Homo sapiens: one gene and its partner. The protein of the gene in region 2 purifies or fractionates together with the protein of the main gene of each other region. This does not show direct contact. Each region holds a gene or a part of one and is shown on either strand. Other genes may lie near its edges.

Region 1 (3,500 bases), on a different chromosome or scaffold from region 2:
AGTCTTACTTTTCTGAATCAATGATGGTAATAAATGGCAGTTGTATTTTTAATCTCTCCACACATAGCAAAATAAATGAGTAGCTATGTTAGTTCCAAAGTTACTTTAGAAATTTCTTTAGACTATTAAATGCCAAAAACTAGGAACCATTGCATTAATTCACCACTTCCCATGATATGTATTATGAGCACCCAAAGAGGTGCTCTCTATAAGATATGCCTTCTTTATAGATGAGGAAAGTGAAGCTAAGAGATGTTCAGCAACTTGCCCAAGGTCACAAAGAGACTACGTGCACAGATGGGAATCAAACCCAGTCTCTCTGTTTTGTTTTTTTTTTCTTTTTGAGACGGAGTCTCGCTCTGTAGCCCAGGCTGGAGTGCAATGGTGCCATCTCGGCTCACTGCAACCTCTCCCTCCCGGGTTCAAGTGATCCTCAGCCTCCTGGGTAGCTGGGATTACAGGCACTCACCACCATGCCCAGCTAATTTTTGTATTTTTAGTAGAGACAGAGTTTCACCATGTTGGTCAGGCTGGTCTTGAACTCCTGACCTCAGGTGACCCACCCACCTCCACCTCCCAAAGTGCTGGGATTACAGGCATGAGCCACCGCACCCAGCCAGTCTCTCTGTTCTAAAACCCAAGATAGCACTGTCATAGATGTGAAAATATAAAGTAATTACTACAATGAATTCAAACTCTGGTCCAACTGAAATTAAGTTCCCCTGTTGCAGTAGTCTCTCCCATCTCCTTTCTCTCACAGCAGTTACCATAGTAAATCATTTCATTGCTTATTTGGATAATTTGATTAATGCTTAACATTCATCCTTCCCCCTACACACACATTAGACTAAAAAGATCACATCCATTATGGACAATACCTGTTTTTCTCACCCCTGTATACCCAATCGCCCAACACAGTCAACATAACAGTAATGACTATAGGTTCTAACAGCAGACAGAAACAGATATGATCTTGACTCCTAAACAAGCTATTTAATCTTTCTTAGTTTCAATTTCTTTATCTGTAAAATAAAGATAATATTACCTAACCCATAGGGCCAACGGGGAGGGAGGGGGCAAATGACTTAATATAAATAAGGTATACAGAATGACATCTTACAGTTAGTCAAAAGCAAGCACGATATGTACACAAAATGCTAGTTCTTTTTTTTTTTCTTTTGAGATGGAGTTTCGCTCTTGTTGCCCAGGCTGGAGTGCAATGGCGGATCTCAGCTCACCACAACCTCCACCTCCAGGGTTCAATCGATTCTCCTCCCTCGGCCTCCCCAGTAGCTGGGATTACAGGCATGCGCCACCACGCCTGGCTAATTTTGTATTTTTAGTAGAGACGGGGTTTCTCCATGTTGGTCAGGCTGGTCTCGAACTCCTGACCTCAGGTGATCTGCCCGCCTTGGCCTCCCAGAGTGCTGGGAGTACAGGCGTGAGCCACTGCACCTGGCCAAAATGCTAGTTCTCATACTTATTTATTAGTTTCATAACTGGCATTTAATAAATACTTGCTAAATGAAGGAATCTAAGTCTATTCAATCCAAAGTGCATGTTCTTAAACATTATACTTAAATAACAATATTTATTGACACTTGCAAAATGAAGAGGACATTAAAAATATTATATACATCTTCAAATTACCAAAATGAGTGTTTAAGATTCAATAAAATTTTTTTTTTTTTTTTGGAGACAGAATCTCGCTCTGTCACCCATGCTGGAATGCAGTGGACGATCTCGGCTCACTACAAGCTCCGCCTCCCAGGTTCACGACATTCTCCTGCCTCAGCCTCCGGAGTAGCTGGGACTACAGGCGCCCACCACCATGCCTGGCTAATTTTTTTGTATTTTTAGTAGAGACGGGGTTTCACCGTGTTAGCCAGGATGGTCTCGATCTCCTGACCTCGTGATCTGCCCGTCTCGGCCTCCCAAAGTGCTGGGATTATAGGCATGAGCCACCGCGCCCGGCCAGATTCAATAAAAATTTCTTTGCCTTATCAACTCAATTTCTAAAATTTTTCTAGTATTTCTGTTATATTTCCCTGACCAGTTTCTTTTACCTCACAAAGTAATTTTTCTAAACCTTCATAGCTCACGAGTCCCAACTCCACATCTTTCCTGCTCATTGATGTTTCAATTGCACCAGGTAAAAACAAGTAACTAAGAACTCCCTCAACATCCCTCAGCCCCCTCCACCTTACCTACAAATTGCTCAGCAAACTGTCCTGCTATCTTACAGGAAAAGGAAACCTTCTTTTTAGCTATAGCTGAAATAGTGCTATTTTAGAATAATTATGTTCCAAGTATTGCAAGCAATACACTTATAGTAAAAATCACCATTGTTTATTTGATAGTCAAATTTAACCTGGCATCCTGTATTTTATCTGGAAGCCCTACATCTCCAAGTAGATAACTTTCTAATCTCAAATCCCAGATTTTTATGTGCAAATGCCTCCTTGTGCAGTTTACCACTTGAATGTCCCACAAGCCCTTTAAACACAACAGACCTCAAACTGCACTTAGTACTTCCTCCAAAATCCTGTTCTAACCCCTCAGTAAATGGTATCACCATAAACCCCAAAACCTGTAAGTATCCTTGGACTCCTCTTTGACCTTCACACCCATAAACAATCTCTAAATTTGATCAATCCTACCTAACCATTTTTAAATCTATTATCTTTTCCCACTTTATTGTTGATACTCAACTATTAAACACACCACATTCTCTCACCCCTCCATGACGTGGCTATTTTCTCTGCTATATTTTCTCTGTCTGAAACTCTTAGTCAATTTTTATAATACAATTGCTACCTGCTATGTGAAACCTTCCTCTCCTTCCCATATAGATTTAGGGCTCCTTCCCCTATGCTCCCAATGCACCTCACACAATTTTAAAGCACTTACCTAAGACTGTGATTTTGTATTTTTTTTTTTTCAGATGGAATATTGCTCTGTTGCCCAGGCTGGAGTGCAGTGGAGCAATCTCTGTTCACTGCAGCCTCCGCCTCCTGGGTTCAAGTGATTCTCCTGCCTCAGCCTCCCCAGTAGCTGAGATCACAGGCATGTGCCACGAAGCCTGGCTAATTTTTTTGTATTTTTAGTAGAGTTGTGGTTTCACCGTGTTGGCCAGGCTGGTCTTGAACTCCTGACCTCAAGTGAGCCACCTACCTCGGCCTCCCAAAGTGCTGGGATTACAGGTATGAGCCACCACTCATGGCCTTGATTTTGTATTTGCACAAAAGGTGGCACAGGCCAGGCACGGTGGCTCACGCCTGTAACCCCAGCACTTTGGGAGGCCGAGGCAGGTAGAGTTCGAGACCAGCCGGCCAACATGGTGAAACCCCGTCTCTATTAAAAATACAAAAATTAGCCAGGTGTGGTGGTGGGCACCTGTAATCCCAGCTACTCGGCAGGCTGAGGCAGGAGAACTGCGTGAACCCAGGAGGTGGAGGTTGCAGTGAACCGAGATGGCGCCACTGCACTTCAGCCTGGGC
Region 2 (3,968 bases):
TCAAACTAGCAGAAGTTTAAGCTTAATTAAAAAAAAGTCAGCTGGGAATGGGAGAGGGTTGTACTTTATTCTAATATTAATATAAAGAATCTAAACATTTAGATATGTCTGAAATATGTTTTTGTCTTTTGTATGATATAATTTATGATAAATCATTTCTTAAAATAATTAATCCACAAACTTCATCCAGGACCCTCACACTTAACAGTTATTTAGTGTCCACAAAGAAAATTACTGATCAAAGTCCCCAGGTCTCCAAAGCAAACTGAAGAATTTAATTGAAACTTTATCTTTACTTACACCTATCCATCTAGGAGAAACTAGATAGTGATCCTTTTATAGTAGAAAATTGTGTACCGAGACTGAAACTGTCACATCTGAGCTCAACAAATTCCCAGAGAGATTCATACAAATAGATTATATACATGAGAAACATTAACTCAAGTGATTCTCCGGATCTAAAAACACCCACAGCTTTGAGACACGATTCATTTTGCTATTATTCCTGAAATCATATGTTATAAACACACAATATGCTTGGTGATAAGTTTCTTGGTATCCTCTTATTGGATTTGTTTATAATATTTTTATTAACAATAATGTTTATCTGCTATATGCATAGGTATTTTTTGTGACCTTCATGACCAACTCAAAAATTCTGGAAATTGTAATGTGATCATACCTTGCTTCCATTTTCTCTCGCCTCTCGTTCCATCTTGAGGTCAGAAATTAGAAGATTCTTATACTTGTTTTTCCCATTACTGTTGTGATCATCTATTCTGTATTCCGAAGTTAGCTGCGCAGAGAGGGGACTGTCACTCAGGTTCAGTGGCTGTTCATCTTGCTCCAGCCCAGTTTTGCCATCACTGTTGGAGTCTCCCATCTCCCTGCTGTGTGTTCCCCCTGAAGCAATTGAACTGTGCCCCAGAGTCTCATTGCCATTAAAGCTCTCTGCAGCAGAATCATCTGTTGGAAAGGAAAAGTTATATTTTGATTTTAATTAATATGCTATTCAGAGTCTACTTCAACTAGCATTTATTGAGCTCCCATTATATGAATGGCATTTTACATACAATATGTAATTCATCCTCAGCAATAAGCTTGTAAAGCAGTTATTGTTATTTTTAATCTAGTAGGCACATGATAAGGTTTGAATGTTTTGTCCTCACTAAATCTCACATTAAAATGTGACCTCCAATGTCCATAGTGGGGTCTAGTGGCAGGTGTTTGGGTCATGAGGGTGGATTTTTCATGAATGGCTTGGTGCCATCCCCATGGTAATGAGTGAGTTCTTGCTCTGGGAGTTCATAGGAGAGCTAGTTGTTTAAAAAGAGCCTGGCACCTCTTCTCTCTCTCTCTTGCTCCCTCTCTCACCATGAGACAAACTGGCTCCCCTACATCTTCCACCATGATTATAAGCTTCCAGAAGCCCTCACCAGGAGTAGATGCTGGCACTATGCTTCATGTACAGTCTGCAGGGCTGTAACCCAAATAATCCTTTTTTCTTTATAAATTACCCAGTCTCAGGTATTCCTTTATAGCAACGCAAATGGGCTAACACAGCACATTTAGGCACAATAAGTGAAATAAAACAGGAAGAAGAAAACAGAATTGAGAGAACAGTTCAATCTCAAATGCAATCTCAAAGAAAAAAAAACAAAGAGAATTAAATAACTACCAATTATTTTGCAAATTGTTTTTGTTTTTCCAGTGAGAATATCTAGATTTGGTAAAAATTCTCTGATAAAAAGCATCATTTATCCTGCTGGTGGAATGTGCATCAGTATTAGCTGAATGACTGTTTAAGATGCATCTAAAGCATTAAAAGTCCTCATAAACTTTGTTCCAGTCATTACACTTCTGGGAGTTTAATACCTAAGAAGTTTAATCATTGTGTGTATCTCTTTGTAGGTAAACATTTATACCAGTGTTGTTCATAATAGCAAAAAATTAGAAATGACCTAAATTACCACAAATAGATTATTTAAATAAATGTTGAAATTGTTAGATTATTATGTAGTTATTCAATATTGCATTTTAAGATATGGGGATGTGAGTCATGAAGTACTAAACACAAAAATCTAGCTACAAAAGAGTGTGGTTGGTATGATCCCAATTTTGTTAAAAAAAAACACATAGACAAAGATTACATGAAATAACATTCTATTTTTCTTAATTTTATCTTATATGATAAAAATTTGCTACTGATTTTTAAAAATTATGATGGAAAAGGTATTAAATTGTTTCATTTAGTTAAAAGCTAGTAGTGAAATCATATAAATATGGCTGAGCAAAAGAAATATTATTCAATACTTGTGATTTTTAATTTTCTGAATGTTATCAAGTATGTTTTTTTGAGGGATGTAATGAAATAGTTAATGTTTTCTAATCAATTACATTCATGGGAATTATATTCAAATTCTGAAAGAGTGATATAACTCACATGTTCCTTCATTTATTCACTAACATTTGTTAAGTGCTTACTCTGACCAATATGGGGTTAAGTATTTGGCCTGTAAAGACTCTGTCTTCAACAAGGTCACAGATAATTAAGAGAGACAGAAAAACAAACATGCTATTAAAATGCAGAGCAAGAAGGCTGTGATCTAATACAAGGGATAAAGACATCATAGAAGGCTTCCTAAAGAAGGTGATATGAGTTGAATTCTCAAAGGTGAGTGAGCCTTAACCAGGTGGAGAAGTTGGGGAAGAGCATTCTCTATAGAGGGATCAGCACGTGCAAAGTCACAGAGGTCAGCATATGCAGGGCAAGTGAGAAGTAAGAGTAGTCTGGAGTGCAAGAAAAGAGAATGGGAAAAGATAAACAGAAGAAAAAAAGAGAATACCAAGAAAAGCATTTTGTTTATCAAAGAACTTGGATTTTATTCTGGGAGCAAATAACAGTTTTAATTTATTGTGGGAAGTGACATGGAAAAAGTTATATTTCAAATAGACTATTCTGACTCTGATGAGGAGAATGGTATGAAGGGGCAAAATGGAAGTTGGGGAGACCAGTTAAGAGATTTAGAAGTCATCTAATTTGGCATATTTAAAAGCTCAAACTTCTGAAGCAGTGGCAATGCAGAAAAAGAGGAGACAATTAGAAAAATCGTGAGAATAGAACTGGTACGACTAGTAGTAATGGAATAGGCAAGAGTCTAAGATGAAGCCAGATCTGTAGTAAAAAATTAAAAAACAGGCTGGGCGCGGTGGCTCATGCACTTTGGGAGGCCGAGGTGGGTGGATCACCTGAGGTCAGGAGTTTGAGACCAGCCTGGCCAACATGGTGAAACCCCCGTCTCTACTTAAAATACAAAAATTCGCCGGGCATGGTGGCATGTGCCTGTAATCTCAGCTACTCGGGAGGCTGAGGCAGGAGAATCGCTTGAACCTGGGAGGCAGAGGTTGCAGTGAGCTGAAATCGCGCCATTGCACTCCAGCCTGGGCAACAAGAGCGAAACTGCATCTCAAAAAAAATAAATAAATAAATAAAATAAAATAAAAAATATAAAAACAAAGCACATTAGGTTTAAGTTTAATTTGTAATGAAATAATATTATTTCACGCCTGGCCTGAAATAATATTTTTAAACAGTTTTCTAAGACTACCCTGTGAAAAATGTTAAAATATGTTCAAATGGCAAAATTCTAGTAAATTACTTTTTATGTACCCATCAAAGAAAGAATTGATGTGGAAAGAAAAAATACATAGGAAAATTTAGGAAACTGGCCATAAATAATATGACATTTTTTATTACATGGTACTTTCCATAGGTATTAATCCAGGGATTCAAAATATTATTTTAACATGAAATGTCTAGGGTTTCTGAAATGCAGAATTAAGGGGATGACTTATATAAGTAATTTAGATAAATGTGTGCATGTTCTTTTTATGCCAATTCAAATTCTTACGCTAAATTATGAAGATGATTTTTATTACTTTATTATTTCCCACAAAAGTCCAAAGAA

Evidence for each region. The genes of interacting proteins can lie anywhere in the genome.
Region 1: the proteins of NOL4 (region 2) and ZMYM6 purify together in Homo sapiens (affinity purification with mass spectrometry; one large-scale study listed by BioGRID and IntAct). This does not show direct contact.

Annotation. Positions count from the first base shown.
Region 1 is NC_000001.11:35,021,946-35,025,445, forward strand, and holds part of ZMYM6 (zinc finger MYM-type protein 6), read right to left. Parts: intron 1-3,500. UniProt on the Homo sapiens protein: Plays a role in the regulation of cell morphology and cytoskeletal organization.
Region 2 is NC_000018.10:34,018,636-34,022,603, forward strand, and holds part of NOL4 (nucleolar protein 4), read right to left. Parts: intron 967-3,968; coding exon 683-966; intron 1-682.